Regions from separate parts of the Homo sapiens genome. Here region 2 is linked to region 1. The links come from fine-mapping of genetic effects on gene expression. Tissue or cell type: whole blood. Region 1 holds a variant in brackets; the other region holds the start of a gene. All regions are shown on one strand. Distances are from middle to middle.

Region 1 (7,656 bases):
AAAATGAGGAAAGACCTGGCCGGGCGCAGTGGCTCACGCCTGTAATCCCAGCACTTTGGGAGGCTGAGGCGGGCAGATCACGAAGTCAGGCGATCAAGACCATCCTGGCCAGCAGGGTGAAACACAGTCTCCTCTGAAATACAAAAAAAATAAGCCCAGTGTGGTGGTGTGTGCCTATAGTCCCAGGTACTCAGGAGACTGAGGCAGAGGAATAGCTTGAACCCGGGAGGCGGAGCTTGCAGTGAGCCGAGATCGCGCCACTGCACTCCAGCCTGGGCAACAAGAGTCAAACTTCCTCTCAAAAAAAAAAAAAAAAAAAAAAAAATGAGGAAAGACCTTTAACAGACATTTCTCCGAAGAAGATATACAAGTGGCCAACAAGCACATGAAAATGTACTCAACATCACTAATCACCAGGGAAATGCAAATCAAGACCACAATGAGAAATCACCTCATACCTGTTAGGATAGCCATTATTGAAAAACAAAACAAAAATCATAAAACGAGGGTTGATGAGGATGTGGAGAAATCGAAGCCCTTGTGCACCATTGGTAAGACTGCGATATGGCCCAGCCACTATAAAAACAGTATGGGCTGGGCACAGTGGCTCAGCCAATAATCCCAGCACTTTGGGAGGCTAAGGCGGGAGGATTGCTTGAGCCCAGAAGTTCAGGACCAGCTTGGACAACACAGTGAGACCCTATCTTTACAAAAAATAAAAAATTAGTCAGACGTGATGGCACACACCTGTAGTCCCAGCTACCTGGGGATCTGAGGTAGGAGGAGGCTTGAGCCTGGGAATTTAAGGCTACATTGAGCTATGATCAAGCCATTGGGCAACAGAGCAAGATCTTGTCTCATAAATAGATAAACAGAGACTCTTCAAAAAATTAAAAATAGAATTATCAAATGATCTAGCATTCCCACTTCTGAGTATATACCCAAAAGAATAGAAAGCAAAGTCTCAATGAAACATTTGTATATCCACATTCATAATAAGATCATTCACAGTAGACAAAAGGCAGAAGCAACCCAAGAGTGCATTAATAGATGAATGGGCAAAGAAAGTGTGGTTCATGCATACAAAGGAATATCATTCAGCCTTAAAAAGGAAAAAAATTCTGACACATACTATAGCATGAATGGACCTTGAAGACATTTGTTGTCAAATAAGCCAGTCACACAAGGACAAATACTGCATGATTCCATTTATATGGAATCTAAAGCAAAAAAAAAAAAAAAACCTCATAGAAGCTGAAAGCTGAAAGCTTGTTACCAGGGCTTGGGGAGGAGAGATGGGGAGCTGATGCTCAATGCATGTGGAGTTTCGGTCACACAAGATGAGAAAGTTCTAAAGTTAACAAGCCTGTACTCTACACTTACAAATTTGTTAAGAGGGTAGATTTCATCTTACATGTTTTTCACCACAATAAAAAAAAGACCGAGGCCAGGCGCGGTGGCTCATGCCTGTAATCCTAGCACTTTGGGAGGCCGAGGCGGGCCGATCATCTGAGGTCAGGAGGTCGAGACCAGCCTGACCAACATGGAGAAACCCCGTCTCTACTAAAAATACAAAATTATCCGGGTGTGGTAGTGCATGCCTGTAATACCAGCTACTCAGGAGGCTGAGGCAGGAGAATCGCTTGAACCTGGGAGGTGGAGGTTGTGGTGAGCCGAGATCGCGCCATTGTACTCCAGCCTGGGTGACAGAGCAAGACTCCGTCTCCAAAAAAAACAAAACCGAGAGAGAGCTGTCCCCTTGCAAGTCTTAAGGCAGCCACACTCTTCCCATCTAAGCCTAACTTCCCTCCCCTGCCATCTGTGGCAACTGCAGCTTCCATTAGGCATCCCTGATAACCAAGAAACTGTTAATTTTTCTTCCTGCCCCCTTCCCCAAAGGAGAGCCAGCCTAGACTGGCCATTCTTACAGGATTCAAGAATGGAGGAAAGTGCTTTTTCCCTCTTTCAAGTTGCCTCTAGTTCATGGTTTATTTTTTCAGTAAGTGTTTGTTGAGTGTCTACTATATGCCAAGCACTGTGGTGAACTTGGGAAACACAATATTGGATAGGACCAGAAGGACCCTGCTCTCAGGGAATTTACTTTCTAATAAACAAACAAGGTGGCCGGGCGCAGTGGCTCATGCCTGTAATCCTAGCACTTTGGGAGGCGAGTGGATTGCCTGAGCTCAGGAGTTTGAGACCAGCCTGGGCAACACGGTGAAACCCCGTCTCTACTAAAATACAAAAATAAAATAAAATAAAATTAGCCAGGTGTAGTGGCGTGTGCCTGTAGTCTCAGCTACTTGGGCAGAGGTTGCAGTGAGCCGAGATCGTGCCACTGCACTCCAGCCTGGGCAACAGAGTGAAACTCTGTCTCCAAAAATAAAATAAAATAAACAAACAAGTTAACTTCGGGAGGTGTCGAGTGCTATGATGCGACTAAACAGAACGATCTGTGAGCATCATGGGCATGTCCTAAAGTTCTCTCTGAAAAGAGGATGACTGCCTCGAGACTTAAAGTGAGAAGAATCAAGCTAGCAGGGATGGCATTCTGGGCAGAGGAAACAGTATGTGCAAAGGTCCTGGAGCAGAAAAGGGCATGCTGTGTCTAAAGAACAGAGAGAAGGCCAGTGTGGCCCCAGCACAGTGAGTGGGAGGGAAGCTGGAGCTGTAGCCGGAACTGGACTGTGCCGGGCTTCATAAACTGAAGTAGAAGCAAAAGCAAAATGTAAATTAATATTGCAAGGGATTGTCCTGAGAGATATTGTCAGCTACTAACATGCAAGTCACTCACTGAAGTATAGTATCCAAGGACATCCTTGGGTTCTCACCCAGGATCTGTAACTTGTTACCTGTGTGACTCTAAGCCAAGGGTTCTCAAACTCAGCTATGCATTTGAATCACCTGGAGGTCTTGTACAATGGGCTCCCGGGCCCCACCCCAGAGTTTCTGATCTGGAAAGGGCCCAGAGTTTGCGTGTCTACCAGGTTCACAGGTGGTGGTGACACTGCTGGTCCTTGGACCACATGTTGAGAACCATGCTCTAATGATCCTCTCCAGCAAGTCAGTGATTCTCTCTGAGCCTTTTTCTTCCGTGAAAGTGCCCTTCTGACCTGATTGATGTGATCATCAGATGAGATAAAATACAAAGCATAAAGCCCTTTTTAAAGAACAAAAAAAGACAGACACACAGAATGATCACCTTAACGGTGTTCACTAAGCTCCCTTCCTGTGTGTTTCCTTCACAGCTGATACAGAATTTCACATATGGCAAGAGCAGCTGACTGCTTGGGAGCAATGCCGGTTTTATTCCATTCACTCTACGTTTATCTAATTCTCTAAACACATAGGAGAACCTCCGGTGCTGAAGAATAGAGAGCTGCCCGCCCCGCCTGGGAGAAACCTTCAGATGCGCCCCCGTTGTTCCCCCGCCGACAGAGGCTTGATGCCGCTTCAAGTGCCCGCAGTTATTTTTGTCAGCCATCCTCTCCTCCCACTCCTCCCAAAGAAAGCATTCAGTGAGTCATCGGGAGACCCGGAGACATCTGACGGTTGCTCAGCTGGTATCCGGCCACTGAGGGGAAGGAGGAGTGTGTTGATGTCCCCTTGGACTCTCCTTGAAGAAACTGCATAGATTCACAGACTCCTGGAAAATCAGAATCCAGAATGTGCACATGATACACGTTTGGTGTGTGTGTTTATTTGTATTCACTCACGGATTCAACAAATATTTGTTGATTACCTGCCATCTACCAGACTTGTTTTAGACTCTGAGGACACAGCATGTACAAAACAACAAAGCCCCTCTCATGGGGTTTATGTGCGTAATAGTCACTCATAGAGC[A/G]TGTACTGGAAGTCGTGAGGTGTGTAGTCTGGCAGGGAAGAGAGTCAGCCATCAGATGGATGTGGTGAGTGTTATGGCACTGAGATGGAGAGATATACTGGGTGGCGTACGGAGAAGCACAGGAGGAAGAGGCTTCCAAATGGGCACCCTGATAAGTGGACGTTAAATGGCGTGTGGCATCTTCCAGGTTCACTAAGGGAGGCTACTCTCCATTGAGTTAACCTCAAAAATGCATACATGGAAGTACCCTAACACGTGACCCCTTTCTCCTTTCCAATTTCTTTCTATGCTGGCCCCACCCCTAGGTCTTGGAGGTACATAGCTTGTTGTCCGGTTTCAGTTTCACAGCTGGAGAGAAACTTTGCCTCAGGAAGAAGTATACTGGGAGCCTCACCCATACTGGGTTTAGATGAGATTTAGATGAGATTTTGAACTTAAAAGTTGGTGCTGCAAAGAGTTAAGATTTGGAAACTGTTGGGATGGGGTGAATGTATTTTGCATGTGAGAATGACATTCATTTTTAGCCAGAGGGAGAAGCGTTATGGGCTGAATTATGGTCCCCCCAAAATTATTCATGAAGTCTAATACCCACAACCTCAGAATAGGACCTTATTTGGAGATAGGTCTCTAAAGAAGTAATTAAGTCAAAATGAGGTCATTAGGGTGGACCCCAGTCCAGTAGGATTGGTGTCCTTATGAGGCGATTAGGGCACAGACACCCACAGAGACACCCACAAAGGGATGACCACGCGAAGAGGCAGGGAGAAGATGCCATCCACAAGCAAGGAGAGAGGCCTCTGAAGGAACCAACCCTGCCAACACCTTGATCTTGAACTTCTAGCCTCTGGAATTGGGAAGAAACAACTTTCTGTTGTTTAAACCACCCGGGCTGTGGTATTTTGTTATGACAGCTCTAGCAAACGAATACAGAGGTGTTTGTGAAAAGGAAGCAGCACAGTGTGGTAGGGTAGGGTAGTACACTCTGGGCACCTCCAAACAGTTCTGCAGACTTGGAGTGTAGGGTGCAAGGGATGGAGGGGAGGCTGGAGAGATGGGCAGGGGCCCGGCCATGAAGGGCCTCTGGTGACAAGGATTTGGGACTTAATTCAGCATTCAAGGTATTGAGGTATTGAGGATGAAGTCAGGCTGGGCGCGGTGGCTTGCGCCTGTAATCCTAGCACTTTGGGAGGCCAAGGCAGGCAGATCACGAGGTCAGGAGTTCAAGACCAGCCTGGTCAACATGGCGAAACCCTGTCTCTACTAAAAATACAAAAATTAGCCCGGCGTGGTGGCAGGCACCTGTAATTCCAGCCATTCGGGAGGCTGAGGGAGGAGAATCACTTGAACCCGGGAGGCAGAGGTTGCAGTCAGCCAAGATTGTGCCATTGCACTCCAGCCTGGGCAACAAAAGCAGGACTCCATCTCAAAAAAAAATAAATAAATAAATGAAAGGAGGAAGTCGGATACAATGCTGTATTGCAGATATAGTACAATGCTGTATTATAGGAAGATCATTTAAAGGAGGCATGGAGGAGCTAAAAGGAGAGAAGAACTGGAGGCAAGAAGATAGGGGTCACACTAACAGACATAAAACATGGGTCAGACACCGTGGCTCACGCCTGTAATCCCAACACTTTGGGAGGCTGAGGTGGGTGGATCACGAGGTCAGGAGTTCGAGACCAGCCTGGCCAACATGGTGAAACCCTGTCTCTACTAAAAATACAAAAATTAGCCAGGCGTGGTGGCACGCGCCTGTAATCCCAGCTACTCGGGAGGCTGGGGCAGGAGAACCACTTGAACCCAAGAGGCGGAAGTTGCAGCGAGCCAAGATCGAGCCACTGCACTCCAGCCTGGGTGACAGAAAAAGACTTTGTCTTGGGAAAACAAAACAAAACAAAACAAAAACATGATTCTGGCTGGGACTAAGGCAAGGGTAGCCAGGATGGAGAGGTAGGGTCCCAGAGAGATGCTGGGAATGTAGAATCCACAAGAGTTGGCTGCAAGTTGGATGAGGAGCAGGGAAATGCTGAGGGAAAGAGAAGCGAGAGGAGCAAGGGTGTGGGGAGGAAGCGACCTCCACCCTGCACGTGTTGAGTTTGAGATGTGATTGTGCTCTGACTCCACACGCGCAATTGAGAACCAGCTCCTGCAGAAGGGAACTGAACCAAAGGCCTCGGAGGAGACTGCCTGGGAAGAGAAGCTGGACAAGGGCAAATCAGTGGACCAGTGTGCCATGTGGTATACTGAAGGAAGGGGGGATTCTCTGAGGAAGATGGAGAGGTGATGTCAAAGAGGAAGAAGGCAAACTAGGAAGGAGCAGGGTCTTGACCCCTACTGCATTGAGAAACAAGAGGGTGGAGAAAGCCCCAGACAGGAAAGAGCAGTCGCAATGGCAAATGCGGCAGACAGGTCAACATGAGGACTTGGAACTTGCCCAAGAGAGTGGCTCAAGAGAGTGAACCGAGCCCCTGCCAATAAATAAATATTTGTAGAATGAAGGAAAAACCCCTGGAAGGTGAGACTATGAGCACCATCTCCAAAGAGCGATCACTGCCGTATCATTTTATGCCTTTCCAATCTCGTACCGGGAATCCCCATCTTCCAAGTTGTCACTGAAATGACTAAAAGAGTATGAAAGTAGAGGGTGATTACACTAGACATAGAAGAAAACGGCCGCTCAGGCCTCAGAGACCTCAAGGAACTTCTGCGAGGCATGGCGGAAATAAGAGTAGATTCAAAGAAGTGCCTGCAGACCTTTAAGTCACCATGTGCAGAGAAAAGTGGAAAACCTCAGCAAAACCCCAGCAACACCCTGAGCATTGGCAAAAGGCATATTCTGTTACACACATCACAAGCAGGGGCATGCCAACCACTGTGCCAGGTACGGAGGCACTGCAAGAACCAAGACAGATGGAACCTGGCCCTCAGGGAGCTTAATTCTGGTAGGAAAGGTGGACAGTAAACAAGTAAACAAATCAAGCAAGGAATCACAGAGTATGATAAGTATGATGAATGAAATAAATGGCCGGGCGCAGTGGCTCACGCCTGTAATCCCAGCACTTTGGGAGGCCGAGGTGTGTGGATCACCTGAGGTCCAGAGTTTGAGACCAGCCTGACCAACATGGAGAAACCCCTTCTCTACTAAAAATACAAAATTAGCCAGGCGTGGTGGCGCATGCCTATAATCCCAGCTACTTGGGAAGCTGAGGCAGGAGAATGGCTTGAACCCGGGAGGCGGAGGTTGCTATGAGCCAAGATCATGCCATTGCACTCCAGCCTGGGCAACAAGAGTGAAACTCCATCTCAAAAAAAAAAAAAAGAAAGAAAGAAACTAGGATGGGCCAGGCACGGTGGCTCACGCCTGTAATCCCAACACTTTGGGAGGCTGAGGCGGGTGGATCACCTGAGGTCAGGAGTTCAAGACCAGCCTGGCCAACATAGTGAAATCCCGTCTCTACTAAGAATATACAAAAATTAGCTGGACATGGTGGCACGCATCTGTAATCCCAGCTACTTGGGAGGCTGAGAGAGAAGGACCCCTTGAATCCATGAGGCGGGAGTTGCAGTGAGCTGAGATTGCGCCACTGCACTCCAGCCTGGGTGACACAGCAAGACTCCATCTCAAAAAAATAAAAGAAACAAACTAGCATTAGCCAATAGAAACTGGACAGGGACTAGTTAAGATGTATGGCAGTCAGTTTATCTTGCTGAAATTTTTCCAGCTTGAGTTACATGACAGATCTCATGTATCATCATGTTGTAGGATCTATCACATTTTGCACAGTTAGAATTTTCTCCTGTCACGTTTTGGA
Region 2 (7,656 bases), 25 kb after region 1:
CAATAGATGGAAGAGAGGTGAGTAGAGCATATCTTGAGGAGAACAAGCCAGAAAACAGGAAAAGTCAGGGTAAAAAAATCAAGAGCAAGGGGAGGAGGATAGAATCAGGTCTCTGAAAAAGAGGAGAGGGCTAACATTCAGATCCCAAGTGAGGGGCTGGTCTGGCCCCTCTCCCATTGAAATGGCATTTGCCCCAACCACACACCCTCAAGCAGGCCAACAGGCTATCTAGGTTGTGTGGTCTGTCTCCAGGTGGGTAGAGCTCACTGTCTGTAGGGAGGGGCCTGGTCAATAGGTGTCCTTGGTGGCCACTTTGTCTGGTGGTCCTGCAGACCAGAGATGAGAGACACATAAGTATTTTTCAAGCTGGGTTCTCTGGAGATGCCAGCAGGTGTGTGCTCCTATGCAAAGGGTTCAGGTAAGTTTGGAAAGTGCTGTCCAAGCCCTGCAAAGCCAGCTTGTAGGAAGACTGAGTGTTCTCTGCTGGCAGAGATGGACATTTGGGAGTGGGGTGGCCAAAGGGAAGAGAATGCCTGCAGGAGAGATGCCAGGACTCATACTCAAGGTACTCAGGGATAACGGAGAAGACACCTATGGAAAACCCTGTGATCACAGAGCAGGAAGAGGAACTCATTTGCAGAACATCTCTACTCTGCTTGAAGTTTATATATTGACAAAGATTCTTTGCTTGGCCAAACTTTAGTCAGGCTCCCAAACCTTCTCCTAGACCCTCTTTGCACTTCCATGTAAAATCCAGTTTTAGCAAAGACCCTGTTAAGACAGTTTAGCAAGAACCCTCCATCTTGTATATCTGATCATCTTCAATATCTGATTAGGTTTATCATCCCCCACCCTCCCCCAGGTGATCTCTGGTCACCTGGCCTGTCTAAAGCAAGAATTCTGTTAGGTTGGTGTTGTGAGTGCCACAAAGTCAGAAATAATCAGGTTCATGCACATGTGTGTCTTTCTACAACGTCAGGCTTTTATTGATGCTATTTCAGTCATAAAAGCCACAAGCCACATGGGGTTCTCAAGGAGGCAAATTCTCCTTAGTTTTCCCCATTCACTTGGTAATAAGAGCTGTGGGCATACAGGCTCAAGTCACTCCACAAGTCAGTCAATACTGCCAACCATACATGGTAGTATACTTAATCAATATATAAATGTTATAGATTACACATTCCACATCAAAGTACATTTAACATCAAGAGAAAAGGGGATAGGGAAGGAGCGGTTAACAATATAGTCCAAGGAGAGTGACTTGGACAAGGGGAGTCTCCTGGCCTGATCCAAACAGTCCTCAGTGTCTTGCAAGGAAGAGTCTTTGATGTGGGCAGAGTGTGGGCAAGATGGGGTCTATCCAGACGGTCATCTCCAGTTGCTGAAGTCCTGCTCTTTTTATGGCTACAGAATCCTCTGGTGAGGACTGATAGCAAAGAGTGTGCCTGTTTATGTCTTTATCTGGTGGGGTGTAGTCTTTATTGATTAGGCGAACATCTGGTTCCTGTTGGCATGAGGCTTTTTCAAATGTAAAATGGACCCTTTTTCTAAGATGGAGTTACTTATGTCAAGGGTGCTCCATACAACCTGTTTAGCCAGAATCCCCCTCAGCCCTGATGTTTCCCTTATTAAGTTTCTATCCGCTGACCCCCACCCTGCTCCTTAGCAACGAATTCCCACTTGCCCATGCTGTAATTGGAGTTGAGCTCAATCTCTCTCTCCCTGCAACTGCAAAATCTCATAGCAGAGGTCCCTACACCTATGGTAATGGTCCTGAATAAAGTCTTCCTTACGATGCTTTAACTCATGTCATTAAATAATTTTTTCCTTTAGCAGTGTCCACCGAGTTTACTCTCCCAATTCTTGGCAGTGTTATTATCCTAGCCTGACAGGAAGAATCAGGACTCAAGAAGCTGAAGACTCGCCTGATACTCAGTGCTCACTAAGTAGTGGGGCTCAGCTCCCTGTGATTTGGGATCCAGCCTCCTGCCCCTACAGCCCACGTGCCCTTACACCCTCAAGCAACACCCAGAGCTGGGGTCAGAGGCGAGCTTGCACAATTGCTTCTGCCCTGCGCTGGGACCAGGGCGGCCTGTGGTCTGCAACAGAGAAGCTCCCCCACCTGCCTTCGCCTTCACTCTGGCAAGCCCTGGCAACACCATGAGATCCCAGGGCTCTGGTCCCTTACAGACTGGGCCTGGCAGAGGCACGGGGAGGAAGGTGGGCCAGCAGGGTGTACCGCTGGGCCTACTCGCAGACGTGCGTTTGCTTTGTTGTACCAGGACTACCCCAGGGACCCTTCTCCAGGGCTGTGAGAGTGAGAACAAGAGAACACAGGAGTTCACACCTCTCCGGTCCAGATGCTTTGAGAGCATGATGGAAGCAACAGGCCCTCTCCATAGAAGGGCACGCACACAACCCATAAGCTCGCACAGTTTCCAGGTTTACGCACCAACCACACCACTACAGCGCCCTGCAAGCAGGCCAGGTCTCAAAGGAGCGTGCATGGGAATCACCCAACATGCTGGCTAAAAAGGCGGATCCCAGGCCCCACCGAGGAGATTATCATTCAGTAGGTCTCGGTGGAGGCCTTAGAGCCTGCGTTTTTAACCAGCGCCTCCGACGATTTGGGCGCTGAGGCTCAGCGGAACCCACCTTGAGAAACCCGACTCTGGGCCTAAGAGAGCCCCCCAACACACACACCCCCATGCTCCAAACTTTCCCCATCTCGCCCGACGCACCGGGCGCGCGGTGGTGGAAGCGTCGGGGAGCCCGGTGGGGACCGAGAGCGACGGCCCATGGGGCCTGCCTGTTCCCCTCGCCCCCGCGCCACGGCCCCGGGAAGCGCAGCACTGCCGCCCGCAGGAGGCGCGACTGCCGAGAGGACGCAGGCAGGGGGCGCCTGGTGGTGGTCCCCAGCCCGGAGCCGCGGGGCGGGAAGGAGCGGGAGCCCGAGAAGAGGGAGGCGCGCGACGCCGCGGAGCTCCGGCGCGGAGGCGGGGGGCGGGGCGGGCCGAGCCGGGCCGGGGCGGGGCCGGCGGGCGGGCCGGCGGCGAGCGCCCGGGGAGCGCGCCCGGGTAGCCAAGAGGGAGGAGCGCGGGGAGCGCCGACAGCCGCCCGCCCGCCCGCCCCCGCGACGCCCGCGCGCAACAGTTCCCCCAAAGTTGCAGCCCGGGAGGCGAGCGCGCACGGGCGGCCGAGGGGCGGGCGGTTGGCGGGGACGCGGCCTCGCGGCCCAGAGCGGAGAGTCCCGGCGGGCGGCGGCGGCATGGGCACCCGGCAGACCAAGGGCAGCCTGGCGGAGAGAGCCAGCCCCGGCGCCGCGCCGGGCCCCCGACGCGAACGGCCGGACTTCTGGGCGTCGCTGCTGCTGCGCGCCGGGGACAAGGCGGGGCGCGCGGGCGCGGGGATGCCCCCCTACCACCGGCGAGTCGGCATGGTCCAGGAGCTGCTGCGGATGGTGCGCCAGGGCCGGCGGGAGGAGGCGGGGACGCTGCTGCAGCACCTGCGCCAGGTGAGCGCGGGGAGGGGGCGCGGGGGGCGCGCCGGGCCAGGGGGCGTGCTGGGCCGGGGGGGGCGCCCCATCCCTAACCGAGGAAGCCGGGGGCACCGAGGGGCACCGCCCAGGGGCCCCTTCCGCGGGGATGGAGCCCTGTCTGGCAGCAGGTGCCTCGGCGCTTCCGCTGAATGTGGGGCCTCAGGGCAGGGCGGAGGAAGGCTGGCCGGGTGAGGCCCGCCGAAGGGGACCTGTTGGCATAATGTCCCCACTGCTCTCCTCCGCAGGCAGAGAAGGAGGCTGGTCTCCGGGGACAGTCGGTGGGCGGGGAAGCAGGGATGCCTGCCTGATCTGGGCCAGGGCTCTTTTCTTCCTGTCTGCCCACTGGCAGTCACTCCCGGCCGAGGGTCCTCAAGGAATGCGGTTATCAGTTGGACCTGGCTTGGCTTCCCGAGAGCGAGTCCAGGGGCACAGCCCTGGGGCCAATGAGATTCCAGTCCCTAGGTCCTTCACTCGCCTGGGAGGCATCCTGGATTGTAGTTCAAGGAGGAGACTGTTTCCTCTCCCCTGACTAACTTCAGCAGATCCTCAACCATGAGCCCCTGCGGAAAGCGGTAGAGACAGGGGAGCTGGATTTGGTGCCCTGTGTGACCACCTGGCCAGCAGCAACTTCAGGAGACTGCCAGGACTCTGTCCTTAGCCTGTGCCTGTCCCACTGGCTAGGGACAGATGTTGCGGAATTGGCCAGTTCCCTCTGCTTTGGGGCTGCCCTGAGGCTAATGCTATCACTCACCTCTCTGTGGCTTGTTTTCCTTTGTCAGTTTCTTTGGTGGGGAGAGGAGCATGGCCCATGCCATGGATTTTGTTGAGTATAAGACAGGCAGGGGAGTGCAAAGCTGCTCTCCTGCATCACCAAGCAGGTTGTCTTGGCCTGGCTTTGGTGGGTAGACAATCCAGGCCCCATATTCTTGCTAGACTGACCCCATTAGAGGTGGAGTCTACCGTGGATGGCAGAGGGAAAATCTCAGGTGACCTTTCTGGGGTTTTCCAGTCGCTGCTGAAAGAGGCTGTAGGAGCACCTTCTTGGGAGGAGCTTCCAAAATCTAATCAGACCCACATCCCTCTTGGGTTCTGCAGCACTCTTCCCCACCTTTGTATCTGGTGCGCTCTTACCCTAAAGTATGTGTCCCCAAGCTGTGCACTGCACAGGGAGAGGCAAGCAGAGACGAGGGGACTTGGGAAGATGTGGGACTTCTGCTTCTGCCTCTGTTTTCCCCAACAACTTCCAGAATGATGCCCGAGACGCTGCTGGATCCCCATGTGCCTTCTCTGAGTTCAGTCATCAAAGAAAGATGACATTATGCACCACTGAACTTTAGCAGTGTGTATTTCTTTGTCTTTTGAAAATTGGAAGCTGACATATGGCCTTTATAGTAACTCTTTCACTTTTAAACAGAATATTGGGTTTTCCAGACCATGGTATCCTATTTACACACCATACAGTAAGGTTTTCCTGATCACATGCTGTTTCCCCCACCCTGCAATGGGTGCTTTGGGGGATACAGAAGAACAGAGGGAGCTGGCAAGCACTTCTTGGAGGGTGCAAGACCAGAGCGAAGCTTGCATGATGGAGGGCCGCTTGGAGGCCCACGGGAGGAGACTGGACCCAAAGTGGGCAGATACTTTGGGCTCCCCAGTCCCTGTAGGGCTGAGTGTGATTCCACATCCTGGGGACACTGAGCTTCTCCCTGCCTTGAGGGAGAGTAGATAAGCCCCTGCAGCCCCACTGTGGGATCCTTGAAACAAGAAGCATTTCCTCAGACATCTGCACATGGGTCTTATTGGTGTCCTGGTACCCGCCTCAGCTGCAGGACTGGGAGGGCTGATGGGGGGGTGGGAGGGGGCTTATCAGACTTCCCCCTTTTCTGTGAAAGCAGCAGGTCCTCAGGCTCTGGGCTTCTGGGCTCCTGTTGGGCTCCCTTAACCCCTGGCTGGGGATGCAAGGGCCGTGGGCCTGGAGCTGCCCTGTGTGGCCTGGAACGGATGGAGCAGGACCCCTCCCGAAAGTGGTCATGGGCCTTGAGCAGTGTGGGAGTGGAGCACAGGAGTGTTCACTTGCCTATGACAGAGAGGTGGCTTTCTAGGACCCTGAGGCCATTTGGAGGAATGTCCAGCTGGATTTGTGCTGTGCACTGAAGTGGCTCTTTCTCCAAAATTGCATTTTCCTTTCCATTCCAGTTTCCTTCTCTAGTCTGGTGGTGGTGATGTTCAGAAAGGGAATGAGCAGCTAGTGAGAGCCTTGAGAACACACAAGCCTCACAGGGGTCAGACCAGCAAGAACCTCTTCCTCAGCAAGACAGCCAGTAAAGACAGGGGTCTGCAAAGCGTGGGGCACCCTGTTCTGCAGGAATGTCATGCAGGCCTCTGGGGTGGGAGTCAATGAGCAGGCACAGAACCAGGGAGGGGCAGCAGCGAGGACAGTAGCCCTCACCTCCATTCACACAGCATGTTCTCCTGCATTTGATAACTTGGGTTTGGCTGCTGGATTTGTGTATGCCCAGAGCCATATGGCTGGTGGGGACTCGGGAGCCTTTGTTCCTGTGCTTCTTAGCCTCTTTGAGTCCTTGATCTTTTTGAGGCTCTGAAAAAGCTACACACAATCTTCCCAGGCAAATGCACTGACTCACGCAATCTCACAGGCAATTTCGGAGGGTTCACAAAGCCCCTGAAACCCAGCTACAGACTCCAAGCTCAGAATCTCTGCTCCAGTCCAATACCACCCTTCTCCCTGCTGTGACTTGCTCCAGGCTGGGGATCTGGAAACAGGGACCTGACCCGGGTGCATGTGTGGCAGTTCACGGTGGGCTGAAGGATTGTGGCTGCTGGTGCCACTTCTTCTGAATGCCCCTCTTCAGCATCTAAGATTTGGAGGGCGTCTCTCCAGCTTGTCACTTGCTGGAGAGGTATCAGGAGGCCTCATTCAGCACAAATGACCCTGAGCTGTGGCCAGGGGTGCAGGCAGGATGCCAGGCAGCTGCCTTGAAGGAACAGAAAGTAATCCCCTTCCCTTTAAGATAAGTGTAATCTGAGAAGAGTCCAGGGCCAAGGATCAAGTAGGCAGCTCGCCTTCCGGTCCTCAGTCAGCTGTGACCTTGGGCCCAGCAGATAACCTCTCTGAGTTGTGTTTCTTTGTTTCCCAAAGAGGGATCTGGGGTACTGAGCACAGCAAATGCTACAAAGTGAATGAAATGGTGTTGGTGCTGCCATTCAAGACACATTCTCTTGGTGACTGTGAAACAGGAGAATCTGCCTTACTCACTTTGGGTCTGGCCCCAGTAGGGGCAGGGTTGTGGCATCCTTTCTCAGGCATGGCCCAAGAATTTTTTGGATTCCATCTACCTGGCCAGGGTTCAGTCTGGATCAAAAACTCACTGCACATTTAGAAGCATCTGGAGCGAATGCTCGTGGAGATAAAACAAGCCAGCTTTGGATGGGAGAGGCCATTCCTCTGCCCTTTCCTGGCCGCCATCCTTCCAGGCTTTCCCCTTCCCCAGATGTCCTTCCCCTTGGGCTCAGGCCTGCTGTCTTTAAGGAGCCCTGGAGAAGAAATAACCTTCCGCCATTGAGAGAGGGCAAGTGCCAGGCCACCTTGAGGGTGAGCTGTCATCTCTTCACCCCAGCAGTTTCCCTGAGTCCTCAAAATTTTAGACTGAGCTGTCGGCCTGCGTCATGGAGCAGCAGAAAAAGGCGTCTGTTTCCCTGGGATACACCCAGCTGAGGTAGCCCCTGTCTTCGTGTTCACCAGCACCCCAGCTTTCCCATGAGAAGAGGCTGATGGGGTTGGTTTACTCGAAGTGTGGCGCACACCTCTTAAGCAGGGCTGTTCCTATGTTAACTTGTTTGGGCCTCCCAGTGGTATGGCTAGGGCCTGGAATCCTGGTTCCTGCTGCTGTCTGGGGTGGTGAGGCTGGCTTCACTCTGCACCTGGGAACAGGAACCACATCAGCTAATGCCAACAAGAACCACTGAGGCCAGGCGAAATGCTCACACCTGTAATCCCAGTACTTTAGGAGGCTGAGGCAGGCAGATGACTTGAGCTCACCAGTTCAAGACCAGCCTGAGCAACATGGCTGTCTCTACAAATGCAAATACAAAAACTA

What was found. PIP is the estimated chance that this variant, and not a neighbour inherited with it, causes the effect.
Region 2: LRRC75A starts here. The variant in region 1 is fine-mapped to the expression of LRRC75A in whole blood (TOPMed, PIP 0.96).

Annotation. Positions count from the first base shown.
Region 1 is chr17:16,512,631-16,520,286 of GRCh38, reverse strand. No RefSeq gene overlaps it. Among named protein-coding and RNA genes, the nearest start is that of LRRC75A, 24 kb to the right of the region's middle. RefSeq lists an enhancer at 2,804-4,003. The variant A/G (reference allele first, on the strand shown) is at 3,845.
Region 2 is chr17:16,487,603-16,495,258 of GRCh38, reverse strand. LRRC75A (leucine rich repeat containing 75A) reads left to right here and starts at 3,066. Exons shown (of 4, transcript NM_001113567.3): 1 at 3,066-3,514. The coding sequence starts at 3,269. All of the region lies in intron 2 of LOC124903936 (a long non-coding RNA gene), which reads right to left. RefSeq lists silencers at 2,814-3,153, 3,244-3,293, 3,404-3,463 and an enhancer at 7,429-7,656.